Linked DNA regions of Homo sapiens: region 2 is linked to region 1. Evidence: fine-mapped expression QTL. Tissue or cell type: whole blood. Region 1 holds a variant in brackets; the other region holds the start of a gene. All regions are shown on one strand. Distances are between the middles of the regions.

What was found. PIP is the estimated chance that this variant, and not a neighbour inherited with it, causes the effect.
Region 2: RPS6KA2 starts here. The variant in region 1 is fine-mapped to the expression of RPS6KA2 in whole blood (INTERVAL, PIP 0.91).

The regions. Positions count from the first base shown.
Region 1 is chr6:166,603,405-166,611,605 of GRCh38, forward strand. The region is part of intron 1 of RPS6KA2 (ribosomal protein S6 kinase A2); the gene reads right to left. Among named protein-coding and RNA genes, the nearest start is that of RPS6KA2, 20 kb to the right of the region's middle. The variant G/A (reference allele first, on the strand shown) is at 3,671.
Region 2 is chr6:166,623,438-166,631,614 of GRCh38, forward strand. It overlaps RPS6KA2 (ribosomal protein S6 kinase A2), which reads right to left and starts at 3,814. Exons shown (of 21, transcript NM_021135.6): 1 at 3,484-3,814. The coding sequence starts at 3,582. RefSeq lists silencers at 3,684-4,033, 4,094-4,263, 4,514-4,573.

The sequences.
Region 1 (8,201 bases):
GTGGTGACTTCCTCCAGTCCAGCATCCACCAGCCACACGGGAGATGGTGTGGGATGTGGGATCTGAAAGGCTTCATTTGGCCTCATAAATGGGATTAGCATGGGGGCAGCTACCGACCAGTCACCTTCTGGAGTCGAGGGCGCCCAGGTAAAGGGCTTTGGCATGGAAGTGCAGGTTGCTGAAGGAGTCATGGGAGGGGACATGACAGAAGATGCTTCCACCTGGGCAACACCTGTCATTGGGAGGGCATCGTGAACATGGCTGGCACATTCCGGGTGATCTAAGGCTCAAGTTAGACAAAGTTAACAGGCACAGGAAGGATACTGAATATTGCGAGGTTGCAGAAGGGAGGCCAGGGAATGGCTGTGGCCCAGGTGTATCAAATAAATGCCCCCGTACTGTTGTTTGCGATAACAAGTCAGGGGTGTTAGAGGAGCCAAAGACCCCCTCAGCACCCACCAAACGGGCAATCGAGGTTGTTTTAGGCAGAAACTGGATTGCCGCAAAGCTGACATGTTGGAAGGGGTGAGATGAGAGCTAAGAACTTCTCCAACTCGTCCTAACGTGTCCCTCCTAGAAGTCACGAAGAGAAAAGGGCGAGACTATGAAACAAAGTGTGTAAAGGTGGAAAGAAGTAAAAATAAAATTAAGAAGAGTTCCATCCTGATTAACCCTCCATGGAAAAGCTCCAGAGAAGGTGCCTCTGCCAATTGAAAGTTTTTCACTGTGAGCAACTCTACGTAAAATGCATCTGGACCAGCACATTCCCCTGTGGACAGCTCTGCATGGAGATGTGACGGGGACAAATGATCTGGGAAATCATTGTTTTCGTATCAGTGTTTGTAAGTTTCAGAGTTTACTTGAATGGGAACATAACAGCTCACTAATAAAAAATGAGGAATGTCTTACTTTTTTTAAAAAACGTTTCCCCAAATAGGTTTGCTTATATGATCTATTTGGGGGTTTGGAATGAGTATGTGGAAAACTGAAAAAAAAAAAATTCAGAAATTAATAAAGACATAAACTCCATGTTTTATAATGCCCAGAGTGGTGCGTGCTTCCCCGCTGGGGTAACTGAAGTTGCCGGAGCTGGGTTCACTGGGGATCGTAAGGGAGCTTCCCGGGCGGGGCCATCCCCAGCTGGGGGAGGTGGCATCCAGGCACCTCATATGCCGTGCCTCGGGCCTTACCTGAGCATCAGAGTTTTTAAAAGTCCTTCTGTCATGGGCTTGCTGTAAGAAGTCAACATAAATATGGACAGTGCTCAGAACATGGGGCGCCTGATGTCTGGAGCAGCAAACTGTGATCAAACACTCATATTTCCACAGCAAAATAATGATCCACACTAATGGAGGTAAAGAAGGAGAAGACTACGAGCCTTCCTCACCCAACGCAGACCTACCAGGGCTCTGTGCGCCAGTGCCACAGGCATCCCTTGGGTGGTCACGTAGCCTAAAATACGAATGAGACTAAATATAGGGATGTGAAAGTTCTGCTTGACACTTAAATGTGCTTATTAAGACTTAATCCAATTATATTATCGGGATTGATATCTATAAGTCTCTAATAGACATTCCTATTTAAGTTTTAAAATATCATGCTTCCCACAGCTGGCCCCTCAGGCCCTCCCGTTCCAGGGCTTCACTGCGACCACGTGGCACTCTTCACTGGGAATATCCCTCTTGCCTCTCCTAGAACTGCCTCCAACCAGATTCTGGCGGGAGATGATGCAACCTGCAACCAAGTCACCTGCACAGGGGCCCTGGCCCCCAAGGGCCTTGGGTGTTGCCAGTAGATCCATGTTCATTTTATCAACGACATTCTACCCCTCTAAAGCCACATTGTGTTTGCAATCTACAACAGGTAGATGACATCAAGTCTTACAGCATTTACAATAATTTCAAGACAATGACTCTTATCTCCTTAATTAGATTACGAGCTCCTTAAAAGGCATCCCTTGGGTGGTCACGTAGCCTAAAATACGAATGAGACTAAATATAGGGATGTGAAAGTTCTGCTTGATGCTTAAATGTGCTTATTAAGACTTAATCCAATTATGTTATCGGGATTGATATCTATAAGTCTCTAATAGACATTCCTATTTAAGTTTTAAAATATCATGCTTCCTATCTAGGCACGTAAAATGCCATGTGACATTAGAACAAAAAATTAGCATGTAGAATGATTAGCATGTGAAATATGATATTAGAACAATAAATTAACATGTAGAGTATGATTTAATGTGAAAGGGCCACGTGAGGTGGCATTTTAGATAGAAATGCACTCACGCACACACACAAGCACAGATACACCTCCCTCCACACATTCAACTGAGATCTTTCAAAGGTGACATCAAAATAAAAATAGCACACAAATTTTATGGAAAAGAGCAAATCAAAAGATTGTTTTCTGTAGTGATAAGACCTGAAATGAAAACACATGACCAGTGGTGGAGACATAAAGGCATTACGCTGCCCAGAGGCGCAGCAACCAAAATAGAAAGCTCTTTACTTTGCAGGTTGATGTGATTTAGCCTAAGGCACTAAATCAGCACCTGTTATCAGATCACGGTCCTTGGGTCCTGATTTCCTTCTGCCAGCAAAGCACCTTGATGAGTGTCTACAAGAGGGCAAAGGCAGCATAATGCCGCCCATGGTAGGACTGCGGGGCTGCACACATTAGGCTCTTTGACGCTTTTATTACAGCTACAGCCCAAGGATGCAGTTCCAACTCCTGCCCTTATGAAAATAAAATGGTGCACACCATACAAGACTATTTAAATAGACCAGACTTCAGCCATCTGCACCCCACTTCTTTTGAGACCCACAAGGTCGGAGTGCTTGCACGAGAGGTAAAATGATTTCCCTGGAAACACGCTCACCTGTGCACCATGAGAGACCCAAAGCTGAATAGCCCTCTTGCCTTCCTTGCTCGATTACACAAGAAAAGCAAAAGCAAAAAGCACCTGGCATGGTGAATTTAATTCTGCAAAAATATATCCTGAATACAACTCCCTATTGGAAATGTGAATATCTAAGCAGCGTTGTGTAGGCCTTTCAAAGCGACTGCAAATTATGGTGGAATAATATGGTTAACACAGAAGTTATGGCATTTTTGCTGTAAACAATACCATCAAGAAAATGAAAATACAACCCACTACGGGGAAAAGTATTTGCAAATAATATGCCTGAGAAGGCACTTGTATCTAGAATATATACATAATTCTTATAACTCAACAATAAAAAGATAAATCACCCAATTTTTAAAAATGGGCTAGTGACCTGATGTGACATTTCTCCAAAAACATACAGCCAATAAAAACATGAGAAGATGCTCTACATCATTTGTCATCAGAGGAATGCAAATCAAAACCATAAGGAGGCACCACTTCATACCCACCAGGATGGCTGTATTCAAAAGGTGAACAATAACAAGTGGGGAAAAAATGGATCTCGGCTGGGCATGGTGGCTCACGCCTGTAATCCCAGTACTTTGGGAGGCCAAGATGGGCAGATCACCTGAGGTCAGGAGTTTGAGACCAGCCTTGACCAACAGGGTGAAATCCTGTCTCTACTAAAAATGCAAAAAGTAGCTGGGTGTGCTGGCAGGTGCCTATAATCCCAGCTACTAGGGAGACTGAGGCAGAAGAATTGCTTGAACCCGGGATGCA[G/A]AGGTTGCAGTGAGCCGAGATTGTGCCATTGCACTCCAGCCTGGGCAACAAGAGGAAAACTCCGTCAAAAAAAAAAAAAAAAAAAGCTCCATCTATCACTGCTGGGTGGGAATGTACAATGTTGCAATCACTTTGGAAAATGGTCTAGAAGTTCCTCAAAAGCTCAGACATAGAGTTGCCATCCCAGATCCAGCAATTCCACTCCCAGGTATAAACCCAGGAGAAATAAAAACATATGTCCACACAAAAACCTGTACAAAAATGTTCACAGCACCATTAGTCACAACAGCCAAAAAGTAGGGACAACCCAAATGTCTATCAACTTACTAATGGATTAAAAAAATGTAGTATATCCATGCAGTGGAATATTACTTGGCAATAGAGAGAAATACCTGCTACAACACGAACGAACCTTGAATACATGAGGCTAAGTGAAAGAAGCCAGCCACAAAACCCCACATTGTATGATTCCGTTTATATGAAATACCCAGAATAGGCAACTCTACGGAGACAGAAAGTGGATGTAGGGCTGCAGGGGGTCGTGGAGGGGAAAAGGGGGACAGGGTTCTGTTCTGAAGGACGAAAACATTACAGATGTGGTAACAGTTGCACAACCTTGTGAATACACTTAAAACATGGAATTGTACATTTTAAATGGGTGAATTGTATGGTATGTGAATTAGATCTCAAAGCTGTATGCAAAAACAGAAACAAAATGTTATGGCATTCAGGGCAATTTGAAGCAAAACAAATACTGAGATGGTTCTTCAGAAGGGACTTTCCTTTAGCCGGGCACCAGGTGGCATGTACCTGTGGTCCCAGCTATTCAGGAGGCTGAGGCAGGAGGATCACTTAAGCCCAGGAGGTGGAAGCAGCAGTGAGCCATGATCGTGCCCCTGCACTTCTGCCAGAGCGAGAAGGCAAAACCTTGTCTCAGAAAGAAAAAAAAAAAAAAGAGAGAGAGAGACTGTCTTGGTGCCTTTTATTATAGTGCATCTTGAAGAATGGAGGGGAGTGCCTTCTTCCACACATCTAGCTTTCATTCTGAGTCCATACTCAGGACAGATTTGGAATTTTTCACAAAGACTCCCAGGAGGCAATGGCTTAGTGTATGATAAGTAATTTCCTCAGGATATTTGCTTCCTGGCAACAAAATAAAATTTAGAATGCAAACAATATGGTATATTTTGAAACAGAGTCCCCCAGAGGGTAGACAACGCTTCTCTTAGCCACTGTATAGAACAGTCTAGAAGTTGGATAACCTTATTTGTATGGTAGTAACCAATATCTCTATATTCATGTGAATTCAATCCAATTTGGTGCTACAAAAATTAAAAATGCTTGACTCAAAATTCTTACATCTAACCTGACTCAACAATCCATCGGCGCATGAAAAAAAAAATTCCCCTTTAAGAATTTCTAGTTATTGAATTCAGGATTGTTTATCTCTGAGAGGGAGACAAAATCAGAAGTAAGTTTGGAGTCTCAGGGAAAACATAACAAGTTGATTATTGTTTAAGTCTAAAAGGCACCAAAGCACTTGTCCCTGGGTACCACTCAGATGCAGGCAACATTCAGTTAAAGTGCCTCATGGCTTTTTTTCCTATGAGGCCTACAGAATGGTCCCTCACAAGTTTTCTATTTCTGTTCTGCTTCAAAGAAAGACTTTCTCAACTTTTTTAGGGCTCCAGTCCTGGCCCATCGTGGATGGTGAGATATTCTTTAGATGTTTGTTCTGTTTTTTTTTAAGTTGATATATATTTAGGCCCAAAGTCATGTTTATTCACAAATCCAAACAACCGGCAAGCTAAGGCTAATTTTTTCATGTAGAATATTTATGAAAGAAAACAATGAATAAACAACTTAAGATTGGGGATTTACTCTGAAGGGCACTTTCCGGAACATGTCATAGGCTCAGCCCCAGTTCAACCCCATCTCCACTGCGGTTTGGAAAATTGTCAGGCCTGAGAGAGAGCAAGGGGTTCTGTTTACTCCACTCTAGGATTAAGGAATGGAAATATAGGGAGAGCCAAGTAAGGAGGTTGTGACTCAGTTCCTCCCCCTGGATAAATGTCTGCACAGACTTTAGACTTCTGGTTTTCAAACTGGGGTTCAATAGGACCCTGAGTTCAGTGGAGTGGGAGGTACTACAGAGATGAAGCAGATGCCCCTAAAAAGTGGCTCTTTCTGCATAAGATGTTTAAAAAACTGGGTTCCGGGTGTGAGATAAATGGCAGAACCTTGATTTAGATCTACTTTCGGGGTTGTTACAGAAAGATCTGTTGGGCTGTCTGGGGTGAGATTAGATGATTCTCATTATTTTTCTATGGTTAAAATTGCTATAGCTACCATGGTGTATTGCAAAGTTTGGTACTTATATCAATGACTCAGGAGCACTGAGACACTGATATACTGAATTATCAAAAGTTTAATTTTTTTTTTTTTTTTTTGAGACAGAGTTTTGCTCTTGTTGCCCAGGCTGGAGTGCAGTCTTGGCTCACCGTAATCTCCGCCTCCTGGGTTCAAGCAATTCTCCTGACTCGGCCTCCTGAGTAGCTGGGATTACAGGCGCATGCCACCACTCCCAGCTAATTTTTGTATTTTTAGTAGAGACGGGGCTTCACCATGTTGGTCAGGCTGGTCTCGAACTCCTGACCTCAGCTGATCTGCCCGCCTCGTCCTCCTAAAGTGCTGAGATTACAGGCGTGAGCCACCGTGCCTGGCGTAAAAGTTTAATTTTATTTAGACAAGTTTTAGTGTCAAGTATATTTTATTAATCTGTAATTACTCGAAAATGGGAAATTTACAAACTGGAATACTCAGGCAATTGGAAAACATCTCCCTACACTTATTTGAAGATTTAAAAAATGTATTAGCTTCGGACTAGTTATTCTTGTTCTCTTTTACATATTTTTCTAATCATTCCTACTCATTTTCTCATCTTGATTTTTTTCTCTCCTCCTATCTCCTCATTATATCTCTTGCTATTTAGTTCAACATGAGATCTTTTACAACCAAATAGCTTGCTAGAAACAGCAATGCTTCATGGTAAACAGCGTGAGGGAAAGATGTTCTGAAATGGTTATATAAGCACGTGTGGCATCAACTACAACGTGAGGCACGTCATTTGATCAATGTATAAATAGCAAGTCGTAAATGATTCTTTCCACTCCTGAGCAGCCTGGCAGTAGCACAGAAGGTAAATGCAAATGGCCTTCCGCTCCTTTCCCGTGAATAAGGAGATAATCCCACCAACATAGGCCTTGGCAGCAGGAAGCGCAGCAGGAAATTCATGTGAATTTCTGAATTCTGAGAGAACTAGTTACCCATCGGCTGTAGCAAAAATCAAGAACAAAATTCAAAGGAAAGAATTCATGATGGTTAATACAGATAAAACCTATGCAACTGGGTTACACACTTCATGAGGCCAAACACTTAAATATGCATTTAGCATAAAATGTGTTTCTGCCGAGGGCCATGGAGGCCTCCAAAAATGCTACTTTCACCCAGGGCCCCTCAGGAGTCTTTACCTTCTCCGTTGTTTCCTATATTAATAACAAATTCCTTCTACTAATTTATCAAAACATAATCACTGCAGTTAAAAGGCAGCGCTGCCAAATATTTGACCATAAAATCATATGGAAAGTAGTGGTAAAGAAATAATGTTACCATGTTTTCATAAAATTCATCCTACCAACAAATATATGCATATACAATTATTACATTTATTATAGAGTTATAACAGAATAGTTTTTAAAACTGGAAAGCCACATGTAATAAATAATATACCTTTCCTAAAATCAGTACTTATTTCTGTCTTTCTTTTTTGAATCCTCACTTCTTTAAATTACTATCTGCATATTCTGGATTTTAGCCTGGGAGAGTATTATGAGAATGAGAAGTACAAAGAAAAAGAACAAAAGTATCCTTAAACCTACTAAATACCCTGAAAGGATAAAAAGAATGATTGCAGACAGATAATATATTTATTTTTTTCAACGAATGAAATAAATTTAATCCTATTTATCCCAGTTTACTATCTCAAATAGACTGGTAAAACTGAAAAAGCATTTCTACTATGTTTTGAAGCAAATTTAAAAGTATTATTATATTTTCCAAATATACATCCTATTAAGACATGCCCATATTTTTCACATATAGCCATTTAGCATAATTTCAACAAGTCCAAAGCTGCTAAATATACCATATGTGCCCATTTATTCTAATGAACCAATAACACAAATACATTACCAGATTCATGCCCCTCTGCTCAGAAAGTATCACTAGCCTGTAGCTGCTGAAAAGCTGTTCCATCTCAGTCACCCACTCCACCATCATCCGACATGACCTATCCTGCTCCTGGCCAGAGGACCTTTTCAACATTGGATTCCAATTCCTCATCTAGGCAAAAGGTATATAACATACTTATCCTCAGGCAAGCTTCTTGTACAGAGTGAATGAGATAAAATATGTGTGTCACAACGCCTTTATCTGTGTCAGAGAAAATCCAAATCAAACTGGCTTAAACAAT
Region 2 (8,177 bases), 20 kb after region 1:
TGCATTTCCTTGCTCTCAAAGCCACCTTAGCTCATTAGGCAACTGGCATGGGTAACGTATTTTGTAGATAAGTGCAGTGACTCATAGGCCAGACACTCAGAGGGTATCCTATCCCAGCCAGGTGACGGTAACTCCAGCTTAGCAAATGGGCCAGTGTCCCCTTTCCTCATCTATGAAGTGGACTGTTGAATGAGATGCAGGTTACTCTGCCCAGCAATGTGTCGTGGTTCTTAGGCAATACTGTCAATGCCCTGAAAGCAGAGCTCTCTTGGGGATGAGGGTCTTGCGGTCACTGAGACCTGACACCTTTCTGGGGCACACCCATGGAAGTCTATGGAAGATACCCAGTTTTCCTCTAGAAACCCCCAAAATTATAGTTGCCAGAGTCAACAACTTGGCCATCTCACTTGGTTCTATGCTGATAGAGGACAAAAATATTCAGTGAATTTCATTTTAATCTGTAATTAATAAACTGTTTCCAAATATGATTAAGTAACCTGACTTCTCTGTCACTTAGGGTTTAGCAAATGTTGGGTTATGGACGTAAAATTTATTTTAAAATCAAGTATGTTCAGAGAAGTTTTGCCAAGCATAAATGTAAAAGAGAGGAAAAAAAAGAAGGAACTTTAGAAATTTCTCATTATTTAAAAAAATAAAAAATGAAAATAAATAAAATCAAGTATGAAAACATTAGGACTGAGTCTCTCTCTGAAAGCCTTTTAAATGAAGATATTGTTTTCAACTTAAAGTAACTACATTAATTTCCTGTTTATGTCACTAGACTTTGAATTTCAAATAACAAAAATTTTCAAAGTCTTTGTATATTTCAAAATATAAATTTCACAGAAACAATTTTAAAATGTTTCCTATTATAAAACAAGTTATCTTTCTCATTCATCCACACAGAGGAAATACACATCTGTGTTCAGTACTTTGTGTCCTATTTCTCAACCTCAATCCATTGACAGACCTCCCCTGCTCAGTTTTACATTTTTTGATGAGTGCTTCTTGGCCTATAACCAGCTGTGAACACACAAACGAACAGGCAGCCTTCTCAAGTATGGGTAGGGCGCAGAAGAGGAACTTACTGGACTGGGGCACAAAGTCAGCTGCTTGTGAGACTCATCACTGGGTGGAAGTGCCCTGAGGCCAGGACTTCTATGTCTCGTGTCTTTTTGGACACAGTATCCAGAAAAAGACCAGCCCAAGACCCGGTCCTCCATAAACACTTGCAGAATGAATTCCTTGGAAAGCTTTTAACAAGACTCTCAAACTCTCAGGGTTTCTTCCCCTTAGCAATAGAATGAGGAAAGTTACATATGCTACCCCGATTTTCACAAGTATCAAATAATAGAAAGCTGGGGAATGCATTTGTAAAAAAGAGAGCATTGTATTAGCATTGACCTTTTTTTTTTTGAGACAAGTCTCGCTCTCTCGCCAGGCTGGAGTGCAGTGGCGCAATCTCGGCTCACTGCAACCTCTGACTCCCTGGTTCAAGCGATTCTCCTGCCTCAGCCTCCTGAGCAGCTGGGATTACAGGCACGCGCCACCATGCCCAGCTAATTTTTGTATATTTAGTAGAGATGGGGTTTCTCCATGTTGGCCAGAATGGTCTCGATCTCCTGACCTCATAATCCGCCCGCCTTAGGCTCCCAAAGGGCTGGCATTACAGGCATGAGCCACTGCGCCCGGCCATTATTGACCATCTTAGTGAGACCTCCAGCACCTAGTACGGGATCTGGCACACAGGAAGCACTAATTGACTACTTGCTCTTAGACTACATGTATTTTCAGCCCATTTGACCTCCTACATCGCTGATGGTTTATGTATGACTTCTAGAAATTTTATTTCTACATGGAAGAAACCTCGTTTCCTATTCCCACCACCCCCCCACCCCCCCCCCCGCTTGTTTCCCACTGTATTCTTTCCGGAGGCACGCCTGCAGCCCAGCCCTCCTTGCAGAACCCTGTGACACCAGAGGCGTGTGTATCCAGAATCAGGCAGATTCCTGAACTCCCACTGGTCAGCCAGTGTCTAGTGCTGCTCTTCATAAACAATGCCTGGAGTGTGCTCACACGTGTACCTCTTCTTGGCAAAGACAGTAAATGGAAGGAGACAAGGAGTTGTCTAATAAACTTGGCATTGAGATGAAACAGGAAACAAAGACATGTATCCGGATAAAGATAAATACTGTTCTGAGTTTCTGATCTTGTCAACTTCAGATTTTTTAAGTGCCTGTGTCCCAGGAAAATGATTTGCCTCACTGGTGTGCTTCATTTCTTTCAATATTAGACTTAAAAGCAAGCCCTCCTCCAGTACTGGATTAACAGTTTTGTTTGAAAGATGTGTTTTACCCTCGGGAACCGGCCATACTGATCCTATCTAGTACTTCCAATTCTGATTTAGGGATGCCATAAGAGAAACTTTTTAAACAAGTAATTCTCTTCTACTTTTTTGTCTATTCCTCAGGTCTCTCAATGGTTACAGAACCCATGTCTGTGTCTAATATCATGGCAGCTGGGACAAAGAAAACCAAGATGAAACATTTGAGATTGTTCCAGCTGAAACAAACCAACCAAAACCCCACAGGTGCCAGCCTTGAGGCAAAGGCGGGACAGTGTCAGGCGAAATCTTTGGGTCCCAGCCTCAGTCTCCCCATCACCATGTCTTTTTCACTTAAACACGTTTCACTGTTTTGTCATCTATAGATTCAACAATGTGATTTGGACACTGGGAATAAGAGAATAAGATTTGATGGTTGAAATAAAACACACCACGAGAGAACCGTCCACAAGGAAACTCTAAGATGCCAAGATGCGGGACAGGTAGAAAGGACAGGGCTTTGGGAGTACTCTGGGTTTTCAGGACGAATCTGTATCAGCCTCGGCGCTGCGAGGATATTGCATCAGGCTCTTTACTCCTGAACGCCGTTTTAGACGCCTAAGCAGATTGTGCTGCTGCCTGTTCTTCCCCGTTCTGTGAATTCTACACTGACTTCAAGTGCACGAATGAGCTACAAGATAAGGTGGAACCTGCCGGCCGGGCACGGCAGACAGCACCTGATCAGCGCCTCGGAGGGCGGAGCTGGGGGGCTTCTCCACTCGGGACTTTGAGGGACCCCCGCGGAGCGCTCCGCGCCACTCGGCGGTCTAGCTGCAGAGAAAGCCCCTCCTCACCCGGGGCTCCCTGTGGCCCACAGGGGACCATCCCACACCCCGTGCAGCCAGCGGCGGAGAAACCAGCTGGAAATGCAGTGGGGGTGGAGTTGCCCCCGCGAGGACCCACGGACCGCCCAATTACTACGGAGTCCCAGCGATAACGTTTGGAGCCGTTTGGTTCGATTTTCGGAACCGGACCAGCTTTCCAGTAACTTGAACTCCCTGACGGGTCTCGGGGTCCACCCAGGGGTGGCGAGGCGGGCTCGGGCGACCACGGCCCGCTCAGTGCCCGGCACCTGCGCGCCCCGAGGGCGGCCGCATTACCTCGAGCCGGCTCAGGCTGGAGCTCTTGGAGCGCGACTTCCTGCGCAGGTACACAGAGAAGAACCTGCGCACGGCGAACTTCTTCATGCTCAGGTCCATCGCCCCGCGCCCAGCCCGGAGCAGCCGCAGGGCCGGGGGACGCGCATCCCCGGCATCCCAGGCGCGGGGCTCAGGTCCGCGGGCGGGCACGCGTGGCCAGGGAGCCCGGCACGGCGGCCATGGGCGCGGGGCGTGGGGCGCGAGCTGCGGTCACAAAGGGCAGGCCGCGCCGGCCACCGCGGCCGGGGCCACAATCGCTCCCTCCGCCTCCTTCTCCGCCTCCCCTGCGAGTACCAGCGCCGGCCACGCGCCACGCCTACACCACGCCCACCACCACTACCACCAATCAGCGCCCGCCGCTCCGCGCCCCGGCACGCACACCTCCTCCTCCTCCGCCCCGCCCCGCCACTACGGCCAATCAGCGCTCACCACCCCTCCCGTTCCCACCCACCACCAGCACTGCCAATGAGAGCCCACCGCCCCGCCCGGGAGAGCCCCGCCTCTGCCGATACCTCCAATCATCAGCGCCGCCCTGTGGTTCCAGGTGCCCATCCCTCCTCCTCTTTCTACTCCTTCCTACAAGAACCAGCTCCGTGCAGCCCCGCCCCCACGCGGTTCCGCCCACGGCCCCGCCCACAGCACTGCCCGCCAATCAGTGCCCGCAGCCGCCGCATACCTAATGAGCCTCGGCCCGGGACAGCTCCCGGCCCGGGCGAGTTGTGCAGCTGCTCCGGAGCCGCGCAGTCGCGGGCGTTCCTGTCACGCAACTTCGGCCCGGCTGCTCTTTCTTCCAGCTTGGGGCCGTCATTATGTTTTCCTTCCTTAAAACATCCCTATGCACACTTTGTCATCATGTTTTTCTCTGCCGAACCAAACTTTAATTGTTGATCAGCAAACGCAGCCAAAACCTCAGCGGCACAGCGAGCGAGGGACCGCCGCCTGCCAGCGGGCCCTGCAGCTCGGCCAGGAGCCGCCCTCCGCGGAACCGGCGCCTTCCCTCCGCCGGAGCGGACAAAGGCGCCCGAGGGCGGGGGCTCAGGCAGCCCTCGGGGCGCCTCCCTCCCGCGGCTGCAGAACAAAGACGCATCCGCCCTCCGCAGCCGGTCCCGCTCTAGGAAACGTCTACACAGATGGCTTATCAGGGCCCGCGCTGGGAATACCCGGGCGGGGTGACCTGGGTCTAGGGCAAGGCCCTCAGACCCGCTGCTGGCGGCAGCGCCGCTCGGGATCCGCCTTAAAGGGAAACACTTTTTTCTTTTTTTTCCTAGAAATGCTCACCAAGGGCTGCAGCAGGGCCGAGAATGCGGGCTCACGACCCCGTGCAGCCTGCTCTGTTTTCCTCTTGTGCACGTGTTGAGTTTGTATTTAAAAACAGGGAGAAACCGAGCCCATTGACATAGCACCATCACCACCTGCAAAGAGCAGAAACGAGTGCGGTGGTGAGTTGACAAGTCTTGCTTGCTCTTTTGCAGTGCGAACTGCAAAATCCTCGCGTTGTTTTGCTCCCTGGACTAGTCAGATGTTGCGTTAATACTTGTGTAGTCTATTTTGGCTAAGGTGGGTAGAGAGGTCAGAATGTCCTTAAATAAGAGCTTTAAAGTCATGCTGCATCCGGGCTGAGGTGAGGTCAGATAGGCTCTCTGGGTTTCCTGGAGACCCGCGTTGAGCGGTGCTGCTCCGGAGTGGAAGCCGGGAGTTTAGCACCACGACTCTGGCGCTGCCCCTTCCTTGCTTGGTGAACTTGGGTGCCGTTGCACGTTGTTCCCACGACTCATCTCTAAGAGGAAAATACGAGTGAAACCTGTCTCACCTCCCTTACTGGATACCAAGAGGCTTATGCAAGATCACGGATGTGGGAGTGCTTTGTGAATTTAAATAGTGCAATTGATTTTCATATTATGTATTAAAGGATCTATAATGACTATTCTTTAAAAACAGAAGTGCAGGACCCCACAAGGACACCAAACACCACTTTTTGCTCCTTTTCAAGATGGTGTGCCAGTTAAGTGCCCATGAAAACTGCTTTGCCTGCTTCCTTTAAGGTTCTGCTGGGAGGGTAGTAATCTGTGCTCTCAGAACCAGCCTCTTAGTGCCCTGTATCCCTGCTGGGACCCTCAGGCATCCTGGCTCTAGGCAAACACAAAGACACTCTGTACCCAGCACGGGAAGAGGTAGATGGACCTCCAACTGGACACAGACTCCGGGAATGAGGGAGGACCAACCCGACCATGCTTCCCTCGGAAGGGGAGCCAGTAATACTGGCCGGAGACAGGAGTGCTGAATGCCACCTATACCAACTCATGGGCATCCTGTTCAGGACAAAAGCCCCAAGGCAGGCAGGCCTAAGTCAAGGCTTGTGTTGTACCAACAATAGTATTTTGACCTGATCTGACAAAATTGGAAAGGAAATATTTCATGGGACATTCATTAGTTCCCCAAATTTGAAGGCAACAAAACTGTTCTGTTGAACTTGGGAGGGAAAATCATTCAGATTTCACTGGAATTCATTGCTAGAACAATAAATCTGTTTGCCTTTGTTTTTCTCCTGGTAAAATACACGTATACCAAAATCTCTAGTGATCATGGAACACTACTTCATGTGATTATGTAATGAAATCCTCCAAAACCACTAAATCTAGGGTAGGTATAATATCAAGACCCACTGTAACCGAAATCCAAATTATCCTTACCAAATACCAGAAAAGAAAGTGAACTTGATAAAGGCTCTTGCCCAGATGATGGAATGGGAGAGGACTGAAGAGAAGATAAAGAGCTTGGTAGACCTCTGAGTATCTCACATTTCCTCTGACTCAAGCACAGTAAGTTTGAGACTGAATTCCGTGGTGACTGCTGCTTCTATGAGTACCAGATTAGCTGATGTGTGGTCAATGCAATTCCACAAGTGATTATCGAGCACTAACATCTGGCACTGTGGTGGTCATTTGTGACACAAAATGATTACAACATCCCAAGAAGTTCACAGTCTTATGGAAGAGAAGGTGAGTGAACAGACAAAGCTCATGCCGTTTTTATGTAAAGTGAAAGAAATGCGTAAGAGATGAATGAGAAGCCAATTCTAATTGGCGAAGTCAAGGAGGAGATGGCCTTTGCTCTGAACCCCTGAGGGTAAGAAGATGAGGGAATAAGTTTCCTGGACAGACAAGAGGAGGCGGGAGTCCCAGGCTGAGGAATAACAGGGCACTGTCAGGCAGCTGTGACAAGGTTTCCCATCTCTCCCTGCTACACAGGCACCTTGTGGGTAAGGCTGGTGTGCTCTCTGCATATGGGAAGATGCCACATTCTCGGGGCACCCCACAGGAGTGGCTTGAGTGACATCCAAGAGCTTCTAATTAGTCAAGTACCACAAATGTCTGTTCGTCTCCAAACAGTCCTACAGGCTGCTGAAAGTTTCAAGCTTCTAAAACTCCCACATATTTTCAATAAAACGCTAAATTGCACTTCAAGTGAAACTATATATCTTTAAAATAAATTGAAACATTCGGTCTTCATTAGGACTAAAGTTTTGCCATGGGAGGTGAATTCACTAGGTTCACCTGATGCAAAACTTCACCAGGATCACCAGGGTCACCTGGTGCTGGCCATCTGCGAAAGCAGGAAGTCGTGCTTTTCCGGAGTATCAGCATTCGAAGGCTCTGCCCATCACAGGCATCCTGCTGGATGCTCCAGAGACAGTGTCCAGCCAGTACGAGGGAGGGAGGTGGGCTTCAGTGTGTGCCCCTGTGAACTACTTCCTGTGGCTGTGATACAAATGGGTTTAGTCAAGCTTCCCTTAGTGTAGTCCCTGAGTGTACAGAAAGGAATCCTTTTCCTGGGCTGTGGATCCCCGTGTACTTGAAATGTTTATGACTTTGAAGTTTCTTGAATGTAGGAATTAGTCCTTGCTCAGGAAGATGGTCTTAAAGTCCTGAGACCCTAGAAGGTAAACTGTAGTGGACAGTTCAGGTGGGGGCACGTTCGGAGCAGGTGTCAGCAAGGGGCCTGGAGCTGTCAGGGAAGGGCTTCTTGGGCCCTCGGCAAAAGTCAGAAGGGATCAAGTTTGCCTCTGGTCTCTGGCTGGCCCCTGGCCCTCACCCACAGGACACTTGGGTCTCATTCACATCTGGGTGCCAACCAAGCCATGTCAGAATGACACCTGTGCCCTCAGTTTAACAGTTTAAAATCTCTGAGCATATCGAAAATTTAAAAAGAAAGTCTTAATGCGTAAAAGTCTTCAAAATGACAGAAATAAAGCTCTAATGGTGAAGTACCAGGAAATGGAATTTACATTTGAAACCAGAGGGCCTGGTTTCTGAGTAGTCAGGAGAGGCAGGTGGAAACCCACAGGCCAGTTGTACTTGACCCTTATTGACTGGCTTACATTTAGGAAGAAAAACCACATTGGGTTTCAAGCTGTGGAAACCATCATGGTTGGCTTCCTCCCTCCCCGCTGGAGCCCTCATCCCCCATCCAACCTGGGTAGGAAGGCACAGGGCTCACAGAAGGTGGGCTTCACCTGCAACACCTCCCCCGCCAGCCCGCTGTGAGGACAGCTTTGGATTTTATTGGTTTTTAAATACTATGTTCCTTCATACCACTTTCTTTTGAAACCCATTTATAAACCATAGGGCCAGAATCTACAGAGAGGCTGATCAAAT